Homo sapiens: one gene and its partners. The protein of the gene in region 2 interacts with the protein of the main gene of each other region in a pairwise test. Each region holds a gene or a part of one and is shown on either strand. Other genes may lie near its edges.

The links.
Region 1: the proteins of BOD1 (region 2) and WDTC1 interact in binary tests that used the Homo sapiens proteins (3 or more experiments, as listed by UniProt).
Region 3: the proteins of BOD1 (region 2) and GPC5 interact in binary tests that used the Homo sapiens proteins (3 or more experiments, as listed by UniProt).
Region 4: the proteins of BOD1 (region 2) and CTSB interact in binary tests that used the Homo sapiens proteins (3 or more experiments, as listed by UniProt).

Annotation. Positions count from the first base shown.
Region 1 is NC_000001.11:27,285,742-27,290,905, reverse strand, and holds part of WDTC1 (WD and tetratricopeptide repeats protein 1), read right to left. Parts: intron 3,233-5,164; coding exon 3,045-3,232; intron 1-3,044. UniProt on the Homo sapiens protein: May function as a substrate receptor for CUL4-DDB1 E3 ubiquitin-protein ligase complex.
Region 2 is NC_000005.10:173,605,586-173,610,749, reverse strand, and holds the end of BOD1 (biorientation of chromosomes in cell division protein 1), read left to right. Parts: intron 1-1,079; exon of another isoform or gene 1,080-1,172; intron 1,173-1,315; coding exon 1,316-1,511; 3' UTR 1,512-1,512; intron 1,513-2,457; coding exon of another isoform or gene 2,458-2,485; 3' UTR 2,486-3,605; downstream 3,606-5,164. UniProt on the Homo sapiens protein: Required for proper chromosome biorientation through the detection or correction of syntelic attachments in mitotic spindles.
Region 3 is NC_000013.11:92,863,483-92,868,263, reverse strand, and holds the end of GPC5 (glypican-5 precursor), read right to left. Parts: intron 1,983-4,781; coding exon 1,825-1,982; 3' UTR 1,027-1,824; downstream 1-1,026. UniProt on the Homo sapiens protein: Cell surface proteoglycan that bears heparan sulfate.
Region 4 is NC_000008.11:11,846,955-11,852,118, reverse strand, and holds part of CTSB (cathepsin B isoform 1 preproprotein), read left to right. Parts: intron 1-1,138; coding exon 1,139-1,253; intron 1,254-2,954; coding exon 2,955-3,073; intron 3,074-3,966; coding exon 3,967-4,052; intron 4,053-4,296; coding exon 4,297-4,440; intron 4,441-4,950; coding exon 4,951-5,067; intron 5,068-5,164. UniProt on the Homo sapiens protein: Thiol protease which is believed to participate in intracellular degradation and turnover of proteins. Cleaves matrix extracellular phosphoglycoprotein MEPE. Involved in the solubilization of cross-linked TG/thyroglobulin in the thyroid follicle lumen.

The DNA of each region.
Region 1 (5,164 bases), on a different chromosome or scaffold from region 2:
TCAAATACTGAGTGCGATTGCTAGGATTTGACCCCAGGTCTGTCTGACTTCACTGCCTTGCTCTTGACTATGTTATAATTTATATATGACTTAGATATTCCTCATCTGTAAAAGGAAAGAGGGCACAAAGTCCTACAGGAACTCAAGGGAGACAGATTAAAGCAGGCTGGGGAGATAAGAAAGAAGTTCTAAGGTCACAGCTGAAGAAAGGAGTTAAAGAAGGGCAACGACACCATTTTAGAATGAAGGGAAGTAGAGGCAAATGTGTAACAATGCAGGGCACTGGAAAAGGGGACAGTCCATTTTACCATTTCCGGGTGGCTTGCCCCCTCCCAGGTATATAGCCACTGACCAACTGTTCAAGAGAAATGTATCAAGCGGCTCTATGTGCCAGGCGCTGTGCTGGGCTCTAGGGATACAACCAAGAACAAGACAGACATGGAGTTGCTCTAAGAGAGTTTACTTTTACTATTTAGTGAGGATACAGACAAAAAAGTAAACCAATAAGTAAAAATAAAATAAGGCCAGGTGTGGTAGCTCACACCAGCAATCATAGCACTGTGGGAGGCCGAGGTGGGAGGATCACTTGAGCCCAGGAGTTTGAGACCTGCCTGGGCAACACAGAGAAACCCCATCTCTACAAAAAAAATAGAAAAATTAGCCAAGCATGGTGGAGCGTGTCTGTAGTCCCAGGTATTCAGGAGGCTGAGGTGGGAGAATCGCCTGAGCCCAGGAAGTCAAGGCTGCAGTGAGCCATGATCACGCCACTGCACTCCAACCTCGGCAATAGAATGGAGTGAGACCCTGTCTCAGAAAATAAATTAATTAGCTCCCTCTCCCTCTCCCCCTCCCCCTCCCCACGGTCTCCCTCTCCCTCTCCCCACGGTCTCCCTCTCCCTCTCTTTCCACGGTCTCCCTCTCCCTCTCTTTCCACGGTCTCTCTCTGATGCCGAGCCGAAGCTGGACTGTACTGCTGCCATCTCGGCTCACTGCAATCTCCCTGCCTGATTCTCCTGCCTCAGCCTGCCGAGTGCCTGCGATTGCAGGCGCGTGCCGCCACGCCTGACTGGTTTTCGTATTTTTTTGGTGGAGACGGGGTTTCGCTGTGTTGGCCGGGCCGGTCTCCAGCTCCTAACCGCGAGTGATCCGCCAGCCTCGGCCTCCCGAGGTGCCGGGATTGCAGACGGAGTCTCGTTCACTCAGTGCTCAATGGTGCCCAGGCTGGAGTGCAGTGGCGTGATCTCGGCTTGCTACAACCTCCACCTCCCAGCCGCCTGCCTTGGCCTCCCAAAGTGCCGAGATTGCAGCCTCTGCCTGGCCGCCATCCCGTCTGGGAAGTGAGGAGCGTCTCTGCCTGGCCGCCCATCGTCTGGGATGTGAGGAGCCCCTCTGCCTGGCTGCCCAGTCTGGAAAGTGAGGAGCGTCTCTGCCCGGCCGCCATCCCATCTAGGAAGTGAGGAGCGTCTCTGCCCGGCCGCCCATCGTCTGAGATGTGAGGAGCGCCTCTGCCCGGCCGCGACCCCGTCTGGGAGGTGAAGAGCGTCTCTGCCCAGCCGCCCCGTCTGAGAAGTGAGGAGACCCTCTGCCTGGCAACCACCCCGTCTGAGAACTGAGGAGCCCCTCTGCCCGGCAGCCGCCCCGTCTGAGAAGTGAGGAGCCTCTCCGCCCGGCAACCACCCCGTCTGGGAAGTGAGGAGCCCCTCTGCCCGGCCAGCCGCCCCGTCCGGGAGGTGAGGGGCGCCTCTGCCCGGCCGCCCCTACTGGGAAGTGAGGAGCCCCTCTGCCCAGCCAGCCGCCCCGTCCAGGAGGGAGGTGGGGGGGTCAGCCCCCTGCCCGGCCAGCCGCCCCGTCCGGGAGGGAGGTGGGGGGGTCAGCCCCCCGCCCAGCCAGCCGCCCCGTCCGGGAGGGAGGTGGGGGGGGGGTCAGCCCCCCGCCCGGCCAGCCGCCCCGTCCGGGAGGTGAGGGGTGCCTCTGCCCGGCCACCCCTACTGGGAAGTGAGGAGCCCCTCTGCCTGGCCACCACCCCGTCTGGGAGGTGTACCCAACAGCTCATTGAGAACGGGCCAGGATGACAATGGCGGTTTTGTGGAATAGAAAGGGGGGAAAGGTGGGGAAAAGATTGAGAAATCGGATGGTTGCCGTGTCTGTGTAGAAAGAAGTAGACATGGGAGACTTTTCATTTTGTTCTGTACTAAGAAAAATTCTTCTGCCTTGGGATCCTGTTGATCTGTGACCTTACCCCCAACCCTGTGCTCTCTGAAACATGTGCTGTGTCCACTCAGGGTTAAATGGATTAAGGGCGGTGCAAGATGTGCTTTGTTAAACAGATGCTTGAAGGCAGCATGCTCATTAAGAGTCATCACCACTCCCTAATCTCAAGTACCCAGGGACACAAACACTGCAGAGGGCCGCAGGGTCCTCTGCCTAGGAAAACCAGAGACCTTTGTTCACTTGTTAATCTGCTGACCTTCCCTCCACTATTGTCATATGACCCTGCCAAATCCCCCTCTGCGAGAAACACCCAAGAATGATCAATAAAAAAAAAAATAAATAAATAAAAATTAATTAATTAATAAAAATAACTACAGGTGGCAATTAGAGTTACAGAGGATATAATTGTTAAAACAAGCATAACGTCTGTCTACTTTAGACAGGATGGTCAGAGAAGGTGCTTCTGAAGAGGTAACTGAAGCTGATCTCCTTAGGATAAGAAAGAGTCCGACATGGGAAGAGCTGGGGACAGAGAATCTCAAGTAGAGGAAAGAGTAACGTGAATGCCCAGAGGCAGTAGAGACCCTGGACACCTGAGGTGGTGAGAAAAAGCTTGTGGGCCTAGAGGTAGTACAAAGGAGGGCAAAGAGGGAGGAAGGTGAGGGCGGAGTAAGCAAATGTTCCCAGTGGAGTTTGTACACAGACAACTGCCCTGGGCAGACAAAGGAGGTTGGACCTCTGCTGGAGGGAAAGAGCTAGGTCTGTAGAAGGAAACACTATAGGATGATGGGATGGGGGAGCGACAGGCTCCACTAGATGCCCCAGACTCTTACCGGATAAGCCCATCCTCAGCAGCACTCCAGAATGTGTTGGGCCACATGGGCGCTGTGGCGATGCGCTTCACCCGGTTTGTGTGGTCTCCAAACATGTGGATGGTCTCCTTTACTGTCAGGTCGTGCACATGCACCTTAGAGTCGGCTGCCCCCGTGATCAAGATGCGGTCCCCAGCGTGAGGCAGGAACTATATAGGAGAAATGGAGGAAGGGGTGGGTGGTAAGAGTAGAAATGGCCACGGAAGGAGGCTAGCCTGGATGTCTGCACCCTTTTCTCTCTCCATGTCAGATAAGAGAATGAGCCCATGCAGGCTGGGCGCGGTGGCTCATGCCTGTAATCCCAGCTGCTCAGCAGGCTGAGGCAGGAAAATCCCTTGAACCCAGGAGGCAGAGGCTGCAGGAAGCCAGAGGCTGCAGTGAGCCGAGATTGTGCCACTGCACTCCAGCCTGGGCAACAGAGCGAGACTGTCTCAAAAACAACAACAACAACAAAAAACAAAACAAACCCTTGAGGTTCAGCAGTAATATACAGCAAGATTGTGTTCAAGCCCAAGTCTGTCTGACTCCCACATGCCCTACTTGCCTCATTATGACTACTTAGTAACCTAGAGATTAAGTAATAAATTAGTCCTGAAGTGAAAAAGACTTTGAGTGTTTAAGGGAATGGGTGTGTGTGGGTTTTTTTTGTTTTTTTTTTTTGAGACAGCGTCTCGCTCTGTCACCCAGGCTGGAGTGCAGTGGTGCAATCTCGGCTCACTGCAACTTCCACCTCCCGGGTTCAAGCGATTCTCCTGTGTCAGCCTCCTGAGTAGCTGGGATTACAGGTGTGCACCACCACGCCCAGCTAATTTTTGTATTTTTAGTAGAGACAGGGTTTCACCATGTTGGCCAGGCTGGTCTCGAACTCCTGACCTCAGGTGATCCACCTGCCTTGGCCTCCCAAAGTGCTGGGATTGTAGGCATGAGCCAGAATGCCCTGTTGGGAGTGAGTGTTTTAAATTAGTTTGACTGCTTCTGAAAAACAATCTGGTAATAGTAACAAAGATTAAAAACAATTTCTAGTTTTTGACTCAAAACTTCCACTTCCAAGAAATAATCCAGGCCAGGCGTGGTGGCTCATGCCTATAATCCCAGCACTTTGGGAGGCTGAGGCGGGCAGATCACAAGGTCAGGAGATCCAGACCATCCTGGCTAACACGGTGAAACCCCGTCTCTACTAAAAATATAAAAAAATTAGCCGGGCGTGCGCCTGTAGTCCCAGCTACTCGGGAGGCTGAGGCAGGAGGATGGTGTGAACCCAGGAGGCAGAGCTTGCAGTGAGCTGAGATCACGCCACTGCACTCCAGCCTGGGCAACAGAGCGAGACTCCATCTCAAAAAAAAAAAAAAAAAAAAGGAAATAATCCAAAAAGAAAAAAGGGACCTGGTCAGAAATGCTTGGATGCCTCTTATAATAGCAAATATTGGAAACAGCTCAAATGTTGGACAATAGGGAAGGGCTGAGCATCAAGAGGATACATCTCTATGCAGTATTTATTAAAAAAAAAAACAAAAAAAACCGGCCAGGTGCCGTGGCTCACACCTGTAATCCCAACACTTTGGGGGGCCGAGGTAGGCGGATTACCTGAGGTCAGGAGTTTGAGACCACCCTGGCCAACATGGTGAAACCCCGTCTTTACTACAAAAAAAATTAGCCGGATGTGGTGGTGTGCACCTGTAATCCCAGCTGCTCGGAAGGTTGAAGCAGGAGAATCACTTGAAGCCGGGAGGTGGAGGTTGCAGTGAGCTGAGATGGCATCACTGCACTCCAGCATGGGTGACAGAGCAAACAAGACTCCATCTCAAAAAAAAAAAAAAAAAAAAAAACCACCATCCTGATAAAGGCAAGAACAAAATACTCCAGATGACATCTGATAAGAAAAAAACAGCTGCAACCATAGCTTCAAATAATGAAAAAAGAAAGTATGCAGTTCTGGGCTGGGCGCTGTGGCTCGCACCTGTAATCCCAGCACTTTGGGAGGCGGAGGCAGGTGGATCACCTGAGGTCGGGAATTCAAGATCAGCCTTACCAACATGGAGAAACCCTGTCTCTACTAAAAATACAAAAAATTAGCCGGGTGT
Region 2 (5,164 bases):
AGGCATTTAGTTGATAATATCAAGCTTTTACATCTGGTAAAGGACCCTGTGAATCCGACTCAGGAAGTGGTTTGGTAAAGTTGGAAAGGTATTGGCTTGTGACTGAGGAGAGGTGGCTTTCCTTTGTTAGCATCCCATAGCCGGATGCTAACTTTGCTGTATTTAACGATGCTCATCACTAAGGGCCGATACTGTCTAATGCCTGGTCTACCTGAAAATGTGCCCTTCAGTGCTCTAGTGGTGGTGTATTTACATCTAGGCTTCCTGTCGATAAGCTGTTAGTTACCATTGAATCCAGGGAGCACTTTACACACTAATCATCTTTCCCAGTTCACAGCCTGTTTCTTATCTTCTTTGTCATGATGTACATTTACTCATGTCTTTCCTTTGCTGTACCCTGACAGACCATTTGCCCACTTGCTGCCCAGCCTATTTTTACCCGAAGGCTTAAATGGCCTCTGAAGTCTCAAGTCTACGGGAAAATAAGTAAAACCTGCCCACATGCTTGTGATGGTATTGGAATATTTCAGTCCTTTGAGAAGAACACTTCACTTTGAACCTTACGGGCTATTTTCCAGACTGTCCAAATATGATTTGTTTCCTCTCACCATCATTTCCAGTACCCTGTCCCAAGTGTTTGAATATAGACATTGATATGCCCTGATTTTTGCTCTACTTCAGAAAGGATCGGGGATGTAATTTAGCCCTCTAGGAGCTTGGAACTAATTTGTTTGTCTATTTCTTGTTTGCTTCCAAGTTGCTTATTATGTGTTACAGGTAGCAACTACAGCTGAAGGCCATGGTGAATTGCTGGTGATGTAAATACTCCCAGCCCTGACTGATCGGCCTTGTTTAAATTTTAAGGATTAGTAAACAGGTTGCTGCTGGAGCTACTTCTGCTTAGGCTATTAGGAGAATAAATGTTGAAGGAAATGGAGTCCAATTCGGGGCTTACTGGCTTTGACAGTACGAGGAAGCTTTTCAGTGCCACACGTGTCAAACTCTTTCTCACCATGCTGTCATTTGTTTGTTGTTTTGGAGCAACTCACTTAGTTTTGTTTTTGATTCTTTTGTACAAGGTTGGGTGATTGTGGGTGAGATTGTGCAGTAGGAATAACAGCTGCTGGTTGAGAATTACCCCTCAAAAGTGAAAATAGCGTGAGCTGTATATGGTAAGTGGATTGACCTCTAAACTCCCTAGAAGGGCTGTAGCTTTGAAGGTGGACATTTATTGGGCTCGCACGTGACACTTATTGGGGCTAAAGATGAATCCCGAAGGAACTAAATAACAGAATGATCTGTTTGTCTCCACAAGGTCAGGGATGTTGGAAGCTGGAGTAGACAGGATTATTTCTCAGGTGGTGGATCCAAAACTTAACCACATCTTCAGGCCACAAATAGAACGAGCAATTCATGAGTTCCTGGCGGCCCAGAAAAAAGCAGCTGTGCCAGCACCCCCTCCAGAGCCCGAAGGCCAGGACCCTCCAGCTCCATCTCAGGACACTTCCTAAGGTCCAGTATCCTATCTTCTGTCCAGGAGTATGCATCTCTGGCTTGTAGATATGTAAAATGGATAGGAATGGGGTAGGCCGTAATTGAGGATCATTCAGGAAGTATTTACTGCAGATGGACTTCACCTACTGTTATAAGTCACTTTTTACTGAGAACTAATTAGTAGCAGTTTCCTGTGTCAGTGACTGATTTTCTGTTCCACCAGCGCTAAACATGTAAGCTATGGATAGATGCTTCATTAGAAATCAGCTGGGATGATTGGTGTGCATAAAGGGGATTCAAATGAAAGTCTTATTTTGCTGAAATGTTTAAATGAGTCTCTCCTGGACATGAGTTAACTTAGGCTTGCAATTTTATTTAAAATCAAGCAGTGCCTTCTGAAGTGATATCCTAAATGGGATTCAGAGTCTGCTTTGAGTGCGACTCGATTTCCATGAATTTAGAAGGAGTTTGTTTACCACTATCAATTACCATGGGATTCTTCTGTTAGGAACACTCCCCCTTTTTAAATTAAATTTGGAATTAAATGTAATTTTAAACAGCTGTAGATGTACAAAAGAATGCTTTTTGCAGGTTTTGGGAGACATTAGTAGGAGCAGCGATGAAGTTAGCAGTGGACTTTTCGCCGTTGTTGGTGACTGCTGGGATATGTTTTATCCCTTCATTCTGATTTGGTGTTCTTTTTAAGATTCTCTGAGATGCCTGTTATAATCAGTAAGTGAGGTGAATTGACTAGGGCGTTTTGAGTGTCAGTGATGAGCAACGCAAGAGCATCAGGACTGTCTTTTTGTTCCTCTATTGAGAGAAGCCCTTGAGTCCAATATGGAGTGTAAAACATTCATTTTAAGTCTTTCTTTTTAATTGTAAATTCCTTTAGGAACATAAAAGTGAATATAGTCTGTTATCAATAAATAACATTTTGATATGATTATCTTTCCTTTTTAGAATACGCCAGACACCTTTTGAAAGCTAATTTTTGGTGAAGAAATGGATTCGGTTACATAAGAGTGCAACTTCAGACTGAAGATAGGCCAAGGTCGTCACTGATCTCAAGATTTCAACCTTGACCATGGGCAGTGACCAGATTGAAAGGGGAGCAAGTTCGGCAGTGGGAGAGTTGACCGTGTCACCCCCTGCATTGTGCTGCCATTTGGCCAGCCTGTCCAAGGGCATGACACCAAGTAGACACTACAGAGAGAGAAACACTACAGCAACCCAGGGTTGTCCTGAAACAGACTTTTATACTTGAACATGGAGACTGCACATGGACTTTAGGGTTTGTGCTGTGGGATAAACGGAAGCTACAGTGAGAACATAGCCAGTCCCAAAGACAATTTCAAAGAAAAATGACAGTAAAGATTAGCTGGGAGTAGTCTTTGACAGTGCTTATTTGATACTGTCTCTCAGAGTTTGCAAACCAGATTGTACAAGTCATTAGCGTCAGATAGCTTTAAAGTTGTGACCTTCTTGTACATGAATCTTCTAGCCAGTTTCCTTTCCTTTGTAACGAAACATGAAATCCTAGAATGTATGAGAAGTTCAGACATTAGGCATAAGGAAACTCGTTTGCAGGCTCTCTGTCCAGGGCTGCTTCCTGTCCTGGAGGGGCCAGTGAGTCTTAGGTATGTTTATTTTATTCTCACATTTGTGTTTTTTTAGAAAAGTGAATGGTCAATAAATGGCTTATCTTTCATAATAAAATTATTTGATACTTTTACTCCGAAGCTTCAGCTGAAGCTTAAACCTCAGGTCTGTGAAGGGCAACCTTTGTCTTCTGCCTCTGTGCACCACACATGATCTACTGGCAGTGAAGATTGGTACATATAACTTGGAACTATGAAACTAGTAGGTGTAGCTAGTAGTGGGCTGTTTCTCTCCTCCCTGAGCCATTACTGACACTGGTCTTTAGTTGAGGTAGTCCGTGGTATGTGTCAGTGTTTGTCATCCTTGTGTGTGCAGAAGTAGCACCTGGGGATTTAAGGGAAAATGCATATTTCTGATTAAGAAGTTCTGGGGTGGGACCTAAGAGTGAGTGTTTCTGACAAGCTGCCAGGTGATGCTGATGCTGCCAGGCCTCTGAACATACTCTGTATAATAAGCCTTGGATAATATATCCAAGATTATGTCTAACTAAGTCTGTGGTTCTTGGTTGAGTCTACTACTGCATATTGCTGCTAATCTGATCAAAATTTTAACCAATTCAGTTGGTTCCCTGTTAAGACAAAGGCTCCACTTCCACCTTTACCATGAATACCCCTGTATGAGCACTGCAGTGCCATATTCAGCAAGATGCTTGGTAGCATGTGCCCTAATTTTAAAGCAAACTGGCCACACGTTTAAGGCAGGTGCCAGTTATATCTGACGTGTGGTCTGTTCCCACCTGGTAGGTGCAGTTCCATTTCAAGCTGCCTTACAGTTGCAGGAGTCAACAAAGTTCTTAACCCCAGAAAATGGACCCTCCACTCCTCTCTACTACTAGGCAGACAGGGAGTGGCCAGAATTAACCAGTCCTGTGCTTGCAGAAAAGCTGCTCAGACTAACTGGAGTGTCTCCTCTTCAGGACCACATAGCTTTAATGGGAAGTTCCTTCCCTGTGAGGCATCCTTCTGGGAGGGAGATCTCCACACAACTACTTTGTGTTGACCCTCCCAACATCTTGCCTATCCCGCACTGACCTCAACTAGCAACAAAGGGCAAAAGCCCAGAGAAGGCTTCACCCTTTCTGCCCCCAAATGCTCAATTAACTGCATTTTATATATGTTTTTGGCAGACAGTTTTTGGTTCATCTCAGTTCTCTTACTTTGCTGCTGCTTTTACTAGAGATGGCTGGACCAGTTGATGAGAAACACCCGAATTTTCACAGAATGTTAAATGTGCCACATACCAAAGAGTTTCTATTTTTTTTTAAATCATTCTGTTATATCCACCAAGATTCACCTAGATTCGAGATTATTTCATTTGAGAACGTGAGATTATAGAAGTAATTGGGCACATCGTTACTGTTGGGATGGACGGTGGACTTTTTGGCTCTTAGCAACACTGAAAGGGAAGACGTGCCTAGATTGGTTTGGGTAACCATATTCAGACTGGCACAGGAAGGCGAGTCAAGACAATAGCACTAGAAGGCTTAGGGGAAAGAAAGCCAGCCTCTTCCTCCTCAGGAACTGGTCACCAGGTAAGCCTCTTTGCATCCTCAACTGAGTTCTCATGTTTTAATTGGGTTCGTGATATAGAATCTAGAAAAATTGTGTATGTTCTGAGATCCTGAGGAAGACAAGACCACCACAAAATTCCACCTCTTAAACACACCCTTGCTTAATTCAGTCCTAAACAAATTAGCTGTCACTGACCTCAAGCCAGTTAGGCCTCTCTCTAGTTGGGAAAACTGCTGTTTGCAAAAGCCCAGTAAAACACAGTTAATACATGAACAAATATTACCAACACTTGCAAGCCGATTGCGGTCATGAGTGTCTTAAGAGCGCCATCGTGTACGGTGGGGGTCAGCCAAGGTGGGAAGAAGGGTATCATTTTGAAGCCCAGTTCTTTTGTCTCGGACGGCATCTGTGATTGCTGCTGGAGATTCTTGTTTCTGGCATGTTTCCAGTTACCAGCTTAGATATTTGATTGGTATTGCCAACTCGTCTCAACCCAG
Region 3 (4,781 bases), on a different chromosome or scaffold from region 2:
GCTTTTGTCCATTTCTTGCCATATCTGAAATTATCTTCTGTCAATTAATTTTATCCATATATCTTAGACTGCTAAAGCATGCTCTTCAGTTTGTTTGTCTTTAGAATTAAATTCCTCTTAAGTTGGGTCTGAAATTTTGCCGTAGCAAGCCAATCATGACTTGGGCTGGAGGGCAGCAAATGAGTGCCTTAGTATCACTTTTTTCCAAGACTGATTTAAATGAAGAGCTGAGGTTGAAGTAAAAAATTTTCAAAATAGGGTTAAGTTTGTAATTTGTGGAGTGTGTCAAGGTGAGTGCAAATGAGTTATTAACTGAATGGATCAGGGAATGTTAGGTGTGGAATGGAAGCCTAGGAAAATGGCATCCACAACTGATGGGTAGAATAACACTTACGGTTCTGAGGCATGTTTGAATGGAGGGTAAAACCTGATTGGGCAGCTTAAAAATGTTGTGATTTAAACTAACCATCCTTAGATCATTTTGTTAATTGAGAACTTAAGCGAGAACAAGGTTTGATCATATATTGTTTCCTGACTAGCAGAAACGGATTTTACCTTATTAATGTTTGCATTTGGCTGTGTCTTGTTTACGTCTTTGTCAGAAGTCATTTCAAATTTTTTTTTGTTTTTTTTTATTTGAGGTCAGCAATTCCCTTTTCTATTCTGTGACTTTGTATTAATTATATTTTCTCTCTGTAGACTGGATGTGATACTTATTAATAAAAACTAACTTCTCTTTTCCTCAAGTATAGCCATATACATATCCTATTAGTGTCTATTGAGGCAACTTATCCCAACTGAGAAATTAGGGACTGTTGGTTTGCAGCTCCATTAATGAGCAAATAGGAAAGAGCTAAAGTGTTGCATATCATCTTTTCTGTACATGTCTGCAGATATTCATAGGAACCTTAGAAATGCAAAGGTAGCCAATTGTACAACATCAGGCTTTAAAAAGTAGTACATAATATTTTGAAAATGGGTGAAAATAGCATTTTTGCCAGAAGAAAATGACAAATATTCTTCAAATTTTTCCACCAAATAGTTAACAGCTTTATTGGAGATATTCCTAGAGCAAGCATGTGCTTCCCAACATAGCTAAATCTATGAGGCAAAGAGAGAGATGGGAGCAGAGGCACAATACCAAAGATGCATTTTGAATATAATGGAATACAAATCAGGTGTTAATAAAATACTCAGCTTTAAGGTTCATCAGTGGCTAAGTTACAGTGGGTCAAAATTATCAAGGTTCTTCAGTGAAATTATATGAAATGCTTCTCAAGAATCTACCCCATAACTTATAGACATTCAGACATTTCCTTCTACAGCTTGCAAAAATGGAAGAGTCTCTTGAATATGCATGCATACTACTTGCCATTGTATGTTTTGATTTATTTCATGATATTCTAATTTCAATACTTTAAGAAATACTGCATACTGTTTTCATTGTCTGGCAAATACACTTTCAAATGAAAACATTTTTAATTTAGAAAGGAAGGGGCTTGGAATTGATAATAAAATTACAGATACACTAAATTCTTCTTATTCAAAGTCACTTCTGTGCCCTTCACATCTTCAGATTTAATATATTAGAAGTTAAGAAGGTTTTCAGTTAGATTGAAAAAAGACATATTTTTAAAGTGTGTCATTTAAACGTTGAGTTTTAGGGACTTTATGAATATTTCAGCTTGGCTTCTGAGAAGTTAGTGTAACATATCTTTTCATAAATATAATTGTTACATTGAAAAAGGATCTCTTATTCCAGGCATATGCAGAGAGAGAAGAAATCGAGACTTCAGTAAGGTATGTCAGGACAGAAGAGTTCAGTTACCAAATCCCGGGAAGTAACATCACCACACTTATCAGAGTGAATGTCATAGATTCAGTCGCCACTGCACATCCTGCTCCTGTTGTGTCTAAAGTACTGCCAGTGTCTGTTTGATGGATTTGCTTTACATCACTGAAGTTCATATCATCTGGCATCCCTGTAGAGGCAAATAAGAAAGCACAGGTGATGCATGACCACTTCACCATAATACGTCTAGAACAACTCTTAAACTCAAAGTGTGGACAGCATTGTTTTTGGGGACCATTCTCTATGTTCACCTAACTCTAACATAATTAATATGACACAGGTATTTCTGTCCTACTTAGATTGGAGAGTTCAAGCTCTTGTGTGAAAATTCTCAAATATTATAAGAGCAAAGTGAAAAGATTTTTAGCTTTTTAAAATTTTTGGAACATTTCTCTGCCACTGGTAAGTAAGTGAAGACATTTAATTAATTAATATATCCTAGGTATGGGATTAGTTCTTGTTTCAGAGATTTATCACCTTCAGTAACTGAAAACTTTTCCCATGAAAATAAAACCAGTTGAGGGGATATAATTGAATAAAATATTTTTTAAAAGTAGAATTTCTACAGATCATATTTTACATTAGAATAAAGTAGGCCTAAGATCTTTTTCAAATTTATTTTCATTTTTACTTGACAAATTTTATAGATATTGATGGGGTACAATGTGATATTTTGACAAGTATACCAGGAGGAATGATAAAGTCAAGCTGGCTAGCATATCCATCACCTCACATCCTTAGCATTTTTCTTGTGGAGGGAACATTTGAAATGTACCTTCTTGGCAATTTGGAAATATACAGTACATTATGAATGATAGTTACCATGCTGCGCAATGGTCTAAAACATTTCTTCCTCCTGTCTAACTAAACTTTGTACCCTCCAACCACCATCTCCCCTCCCTTCCCCACATCCATCCCCTGGCAGCCACCCTTTTACTTTCCCCTTTTATGACTTCAGCTATTTTAGATTCCACATGTAAGTGAGATCAGGAATTAGGACCTTTATGGAAATAGCAAATAGCAAAGAATAATAGCAACAAATGTTAAATTATATCTTCCATACACACATACAGCTGTGAGGATGGAGGTGTAGATATCTATCAACAGATCAAAGAAGTTGTTAATGGGTGGACTGGAGAATGAAGTTAGGGATAAAGTGTTTCATTTAAAAAAAAGCGGGCAAAGTCATACACCAAGATCCAGTCGCATTCTGGTTATTACTTCCGTACGTTATGAAACCTGACAAGTTGAGGAAAAAACTATCCCCTTAATTAACTGGGTTGAAAGAATTGCTTTTTAAAGATGTTTACCTTAGTACGATATACCTAGGGAATTACTGATTCATCACTTATTATCTAGTGCCATCAGTGTTCTGAGACTAAGTGACTGAATTATCTCATAGCATGCCACTATCAGTCACAATTAACAGATTTAAATTCATTGTTACTACAGCCACAAATATTGACATGGTAATTACAGAGAGATTGAAAGAATAAACTTCATATAAGGAAAAGTCAATATTTATGTAATTAGGCCAATATATATATATATAATTCAGAAGATAAGCTGTGCTGCATTCAGACATGAGAGCACTAAAACGAAGCAAAGCTCTGCTGATCTGACATATTGATTTTACAGTCTGAGCTCTTACATTATTATTCATTGTTTGGGTGCTTGTTTTGCCCTTCTGTGTCATTAGGCAAGATGAATAAACTAGTGATTCCCTTTTTTATTTTTTTTAAATAGGGACTAGAGTGGAGTGTGAATATTTTAGTCATGGCTTTATACCTCTTGTTAAGCTTAACAAGAAGCTATGAGGACTCCAGGCAATTAAAAATATTTTTTTTTTCTAAGATAACTACATAAATTTGAGCATTACAGGATTTACTTTTCATTTTTAAGCATTGTGAATTTGTGTTTGGATGGGATCCATGAATAAGGTTTTCTTATGCCATTCTGAGCTTATATTTTGTTCATTCATGAGCCAGACACTGATTTAGGTTTAGTGGATGCCATCATGGGTGAAAATATGTAAGTAGAAAGATGTTAAATCTTATGCCTGCAAGCCAGACAATGGCAGGAGAGCTTTTCTGCCTTCAATCAGATGCTATTTTACCATCTTACATTAAGGTGTTACTAATAAATAAATGTAACAGTTCTAAGGAATATGGCCTTTGAGTAATAAGTATGTGAAAAGAATTCAAGATCTTTTCAAGAGCCTGGCAGTCATGGCCGTAGTTATGGATCAAATCACAACCTTGTCATCTGTAAAAAGACATTAGCATGCCAAAAATTCTAGCTCCATGAATATTTGATGCAATGATTATTTTCATAAAGAAATTTAATTAACCAAGCTTATAAATTATACCAAGGCTTATAAAGACCTATAAAAGAAAAAATTAGTTTGGAGATTTATTGTATTAATACATTAAAGAAAAACAAAGTAATTTTTGAATACTCTTATATGCATAACAGCAACACACAAAGGTGTGAATAAATTCATAGTTTTGCTCTTAGTGGTTTATGGTCTGATGGGGAAAGAAAATTGCGTTATTAAAAAATGAAGGAAATATTATTACACAGAGACAGACCTGGTGATTGGTGCTATGAAATATGGTAGGCCGAGAGCAGTGGCTCACACCTGTAATCTCAGCACTTTGGGAGGCTGATGCAGGCAGATCACCTGAGGTCGGGAGTACAAGACCAGCCTGACCAACATGGAGAAACCCCGTCTCTACTAAAAATACAAAATTAGCCAGGTGTGGTGGTGCGTGCCTGTAATCCCAGCTACTTGGGAAGCCGAGGCAGGAGAATCACTTGAACTCGGGAGGTGGAGGTTGCGGTGAGCCTAGATTGTGCCATTGCACTCCAGCCTGGGCAGCAAGAACGAAACTCCATCTCGAAATAAGGTAAAGGGATGTAACTTGGT
Region 4 (5,164 bases), on a different chromosome or scaffold from region 2:
TGGGATTACCGGCATGAGCCACCCCCAGTGTTTTCTATTGTGCTTCTCCAAGGTGTCTCAGCCGCAGATGTGACAGACAAGGTCTGGGTCCCCACTATGTGGGCAGACTCAATCTTGAGTAATTTAAGGGAAATCTAAGAAAAGCCAGATGAGGCCAAGTATGGTGGCTCACGCCTGTAATCCCAGCACTTTGGGATGCCAAGGCAAGCGGATCACCTGAGGTCAGGAGTTCGAGACCAGTCTGACCAACATGATGAAACCCCGTCTCTACTAAAAATAAAAAACTTTGCCAGGCGTGGTGGCGGGCGCCTGTAATCCCAGCTACTCGGGAGGCTGAGGCTAGAGAATCGCATGAACCCGGGAGGCAGAGGTTGCGGTGAGCTGAGATGATGCCACTTCCCACGTGAGGATGGGGTAGTTAAGTTGCACGACACTGCCTTCTGCACAATGGGGATGATATGAGAAATGATGAGAGGATCCTGGGCAGAGGTTGAGGCAGGAGAGCAGGGCAAGAAACACTATCTGGACTGAATAAACTTATTTAAAAATGAGTTTATAATTTGTGGATAAATTCATCTTAAAAAATCCATTACATAAGCCTAGAAAGAAGCGTACAATATCGCAAGTCAGGCCAGGTGTGGTGGATCATGCCTGTAATCCCAGCACTTTGGGAGGCCAAGGCAGGCAGATCATTTGAAGCCAGGAGTTTAAGACCAGCCTGGCCAACATGGTGAAACCCTGTCTTTACTAAAAATACAAAAATTAGCCGGGTGTGGTGGTGCATGCCTGTAATCCCAGCTACTCAGGAGGCTGAGGCACGAGAATCGATTGAACTCAGGAGGCAGAGGTTGCAGTGGGCAGAGATCTCGCCACTGCACTCCAGCCTGGATGACACAGTGAAATTCTGTCCACTCCCACCCTCCCGTCCCACCCAAAAAAAAAATCAAAAGGTGCATTGAGCAACAGAATTTCCTTTTGTTTTATGAAATTACCAAGGACACCTGTCTGCAGCCTTCTTCGGCATGTCTTGTGCTCATTTCCTTGTTAGGGGAGTGTGGCCCAGCCAAAGTGGCCTTTGCAGGGATTGGGGAGGGAGTTGTGGGATCAGAGCTTGTAATGAAGACCTTCCTTTATCCAGAGTTATGTTTACCGAGGACCTGAAGCTGCCTGCAAGCTTCGATGCACGGGAACAATGGCCACAGTGTCCCACCATCAAAGAGATCAGAGACCAGGGCTCCTGTGGCTCCTGCTGGGTAAGGCCCTGCTGGCTGGCGGGGAAGCGCTGGAGAGAAAGTGGGAGCAACACTGGAGAGTCTTGGGGGATTCGGGGTGGGGACAACTCTGACAAGGCAAGTTATAGAAACTTTCTGAGTCCCAGTTTCCATCAGTACAAAAATCACAATCCCTCTGGCCATGAATGATGGCGAGGATTAGGTGGAGTGGCGGGCAGAGCATCCAGCAGATTGCAAGTCCACGTGTACAGGTGGCGAAGCAGCTCCCTTTCCCTGACATGCTGGCCCGTCCGCAAATACCAGGAGCTCTCACTGCTACTCTGCTTCAAGAAAGCATCCCTTTAGTGTCAGTGAGCTGTCTTAATTTTGTCATTTAATTGTGGTAAAATACACGTAACAGAAATGTAATAATCTTAGCAATCTTCTTTTGTTTTCTTTTTCTTTCTTTTTTTTTTTTTTTTTTTTTTGGAGATGGAGTCTTGCTCTGTCACCCAGGCTGGAGTGCAGTGGTGGGATATTGGCTCACTGCAACCTCTGCCTCCTGGGTTCAAGCAATTCTCCTGCCTCAGTCTCCCCAGTAGCTAAGACTACAGGCATGTGCCACCACGCCCAGCTAATTTTTGTATTTTTAGTAGAGATGGGGTTTTGCCATGTTGGACAGCCTGGTCTCAAACGCCTCACCTGTTGATCTGCCTTCCTCGGCCTCGCAAAATGCTGGGATTACAGGCGTGAGCCACCGTGCCCAGCAACTATTTTCAAGTGTACAGTTCTGTAGCATTAAGTACATTCACAGTGTTGCTCAGCCACCACCACCATCTGTCCCCCGAACTCTTTTTCAGCTCGCAAGACAGAAACTCTGTCCCCATTAACACCAATATTGTAGCCCCTGGTAAGCCCCACTCTACTTTCTGTCTCTATGAATTTGACTCCTAGGGACCTCATACAAGTGGATCACAACAGTATTTATTTTCTGGGTGAGCTGTGTTTTTTGTTAAGAAAAAAACACAGCCAGGTACGGTAGCTCACGCCTGTAATCTCAACACTTTGGGAGGCTGAGGCAGGCGGATCACCTGAGGTCAGGAGTTTGAGACCAACCTGGCCAACATGGTGAAACCCTGTCTCTACTAAAAAGACAAAACTTAGCTGGGCCTGGTGGCAGGCACCTATAATCCCAGCTACTATAGAGGCTGAGGCAGGAGAATTGCTTGAACCCAGGAGGCGTAGGTTGCAGTGAGCTGAGATTGCGCCACTGCATTCCAGCCTGGGCAACAAAAGTGAAACTCCGCCTCCAGGAAAAAAAAAAAAAACCACACACACACATACAAACTAATACTACACATTTTGCAGATTTCAGAAATGAACCCAGTTTCCAGGCAGAGGTTCACGGGGGTGCTTCTCTTGCTTTAAAAGCTGAGTTGGGCAAATCGTTGAGGCAGGAGAGTGGGGCAAGTGGCTCATCACGCCTCTAATCCCAGCACTTTGGGAGGCCAAGGTGGGCAAATCACTTGAACCCGGGAGTTCAAGACCAGTCTGGCCAACGTAGCAAGACCCCATTTCTACCAAAGAAAATAAAAGCTGAGTTTGAGCCCCAGGAGCGTCCCCTGGTGTTGAGAGATCAGTTGCCTACAAGGTCTGAGGTGCCCCTGTGGCCCTTTGAGGGGACTGCTGCAGAGGGCCCAGCCCGGACATGGCAGCCTCACCCGGTGGGGCTCGTTCCTGCAGGCCTTCGGGGCTGTGGAAGCCATCTCTGACCGGATCTGCATCCACACCAATGCGCACGTCAGCGTGGAGGTGTCGGCGGAGGACCTGCTCACATGCTGTGGCAGCATGTGTGGGGACGGGTGAGTCAGGCTGTGCTTCCACAGCGGGTTTAGTGCTGAGAGACCCTGGGCCCCAGCTTCTCAGTGGAGGGGACTTTGAGGACTTCCTGGGACTGCTGCGAGTCAGAAGTGTTTCGGGGAGACTCCGAGAGTCTGGCAGGCAGGGCCTGGCAAGGCTGCTGCTTCCTGGGAGGTGCCTGAACCAAGGCTGGCCCGGCAGAGCTGTCTGAGGGGTGGCATCCCAGCAAAACAGTCAGTTTCAGAAAATGTGGTGGAATGTCTGGCCCCTGGTCTGGTTTGTGTCATCGCATGTTCCTTTTTCCTGCTTGGGGAACCAGTTTGGGGCATTTCCTTATGTGTAGTTAGCGGGGATGGCTCCACCTTAACAACAAGGTGGTGGCACAGAACTTTCTGCTCCAGCTGCCTGCAGCCTCGCCTTGGTTCCGCAGTAGCGGTGTTCACTGGCGGCTGCAGATCCGAAATGCCTGAGGGCTTAAAAAAATGCATGGGCTTCTCCCCTAACTAGTTAAATGGGAATCACTGGCGATTCTCATTTCAGAGAACTGGTGGTGTTTTTAAGTACCTTAGGGAAGTTTAGCGTCTGCTCAGTTGAGAATCAGTGTTCTACCCGGAAGGGCACTCGTAGCCTGGTCTGGTATGGACATGAACAGGAGAGCCTCCTGTCTTCTCCCGGATCTTTGTGGGCAGGGGTGGGGCTGGCGGTTATTCCCTGCAAGCTGTGCTTATCTAGGGAGCGTCCCTTGGAGGGTTTGGGGTCTGGGAGGTCTGCTCGCACCACTTGCTGCAGCTGGGGGTGGGTCCACGAGTGGCCTCGGGCACTTGGGTAGCACACAGTGGTCTGGAGAGCTGGTGGTGCTTCTCTCAGAGGTTTTCATTAGAGGCTGTCTTTTCAGCTGTAATGGTGGCTATCCTGCTGAAGCTTGGAACTTCTGGACAAGAAAAGGCCTGGTTTCTGGTGGCCTCTATGAATCCCATGTAGGTAAGTGTGTCCCCTTGGCCACTTTCTGGCCAGATGGATTGTTTGAGCAATTAACCATCATGGCTTTATTTGCCTTTATAAACTGGGGGTTGAGACAGAGGGGCTGCTGAGAGGTGCTAGCCAGGTGCACAGGCCTCTGGCAGGACCTGCCTGGCGTCCATGCTGCAGGCACGAGGCTTGCCTTGCCCCAGGTCTTCTCCGTGGGGGCTGTAGGTTGACTCCGCTTTCTCCCGCGTCCCATCAGGGTGCAGACCGTACTCCATCCCTCCCTGTGAGCACCACGTCAACGGCTCCCGGCCCCCATGCACGGGGGAGGGAGATACCCCCAAGTGTAGCAAGATCTGTGAGCCTGGCTACAGCCCGACCTACAAACAGGACAAGCACTACGGTAAGGGGCCTGGGGCCTGGCCACGGCGCACGTGGAGGCTGGGGAGCTGCTGCATCCCTCCTCACGCTGCAGCGAAGAGGTCAGGGCTGAGGAGCCTTGGGGTCCCGGAACTCTAGGATAGAGGAGGGGGAGTGATGCCCTCTTGCCAGGAGAAGCAGCACACTCTCCACTTTCTGCCTGTTCCACCCTGAACTCAGCCTCAGCCCTTCCAAACTGGAAGGGACCAAAGCCCTCCTTTTACAAGGGAGTGGCGTGTCCTGGAGTCTTGAGGTATCCTGGCCTCTTCCGGGGCCTCGTGCTCATTGCTCCGTTCTCCCATTTCTGAGCTTCCAGCCCCAGCCCTGTCCTTAGTTCTTCAGGGGAGCCTTCCTTGAGCTCCCCTGGCAGGGCAAGTCCCCTTAGATGCAGTCTTCCCCTGGAGGCCACCAGAAATCAGTGACTGGCTGACCGTGGCGTGCCACGAGGCACGGTCACTGCCCTCCCCAACCCCGAGCTCGGTTCATTTTCCAGGATACAATTCCTACAGCGTCTCCAATAGCGAGAAGGACATCATGGCCGAGATCTACAAAAACGGCCCCGTGGAGGGAGCTTTCTCTGTGTATTCGGACTTCCTGCTCTACAAGTCAGGTGCGTGCTGATGGCTGATGGCAATAGAGGGTGGGGGTCGGGAGGGGAGCCTGGGTGCCAGGATGGTTCATGTTGACCAATAGGGCTGGATTGGGCA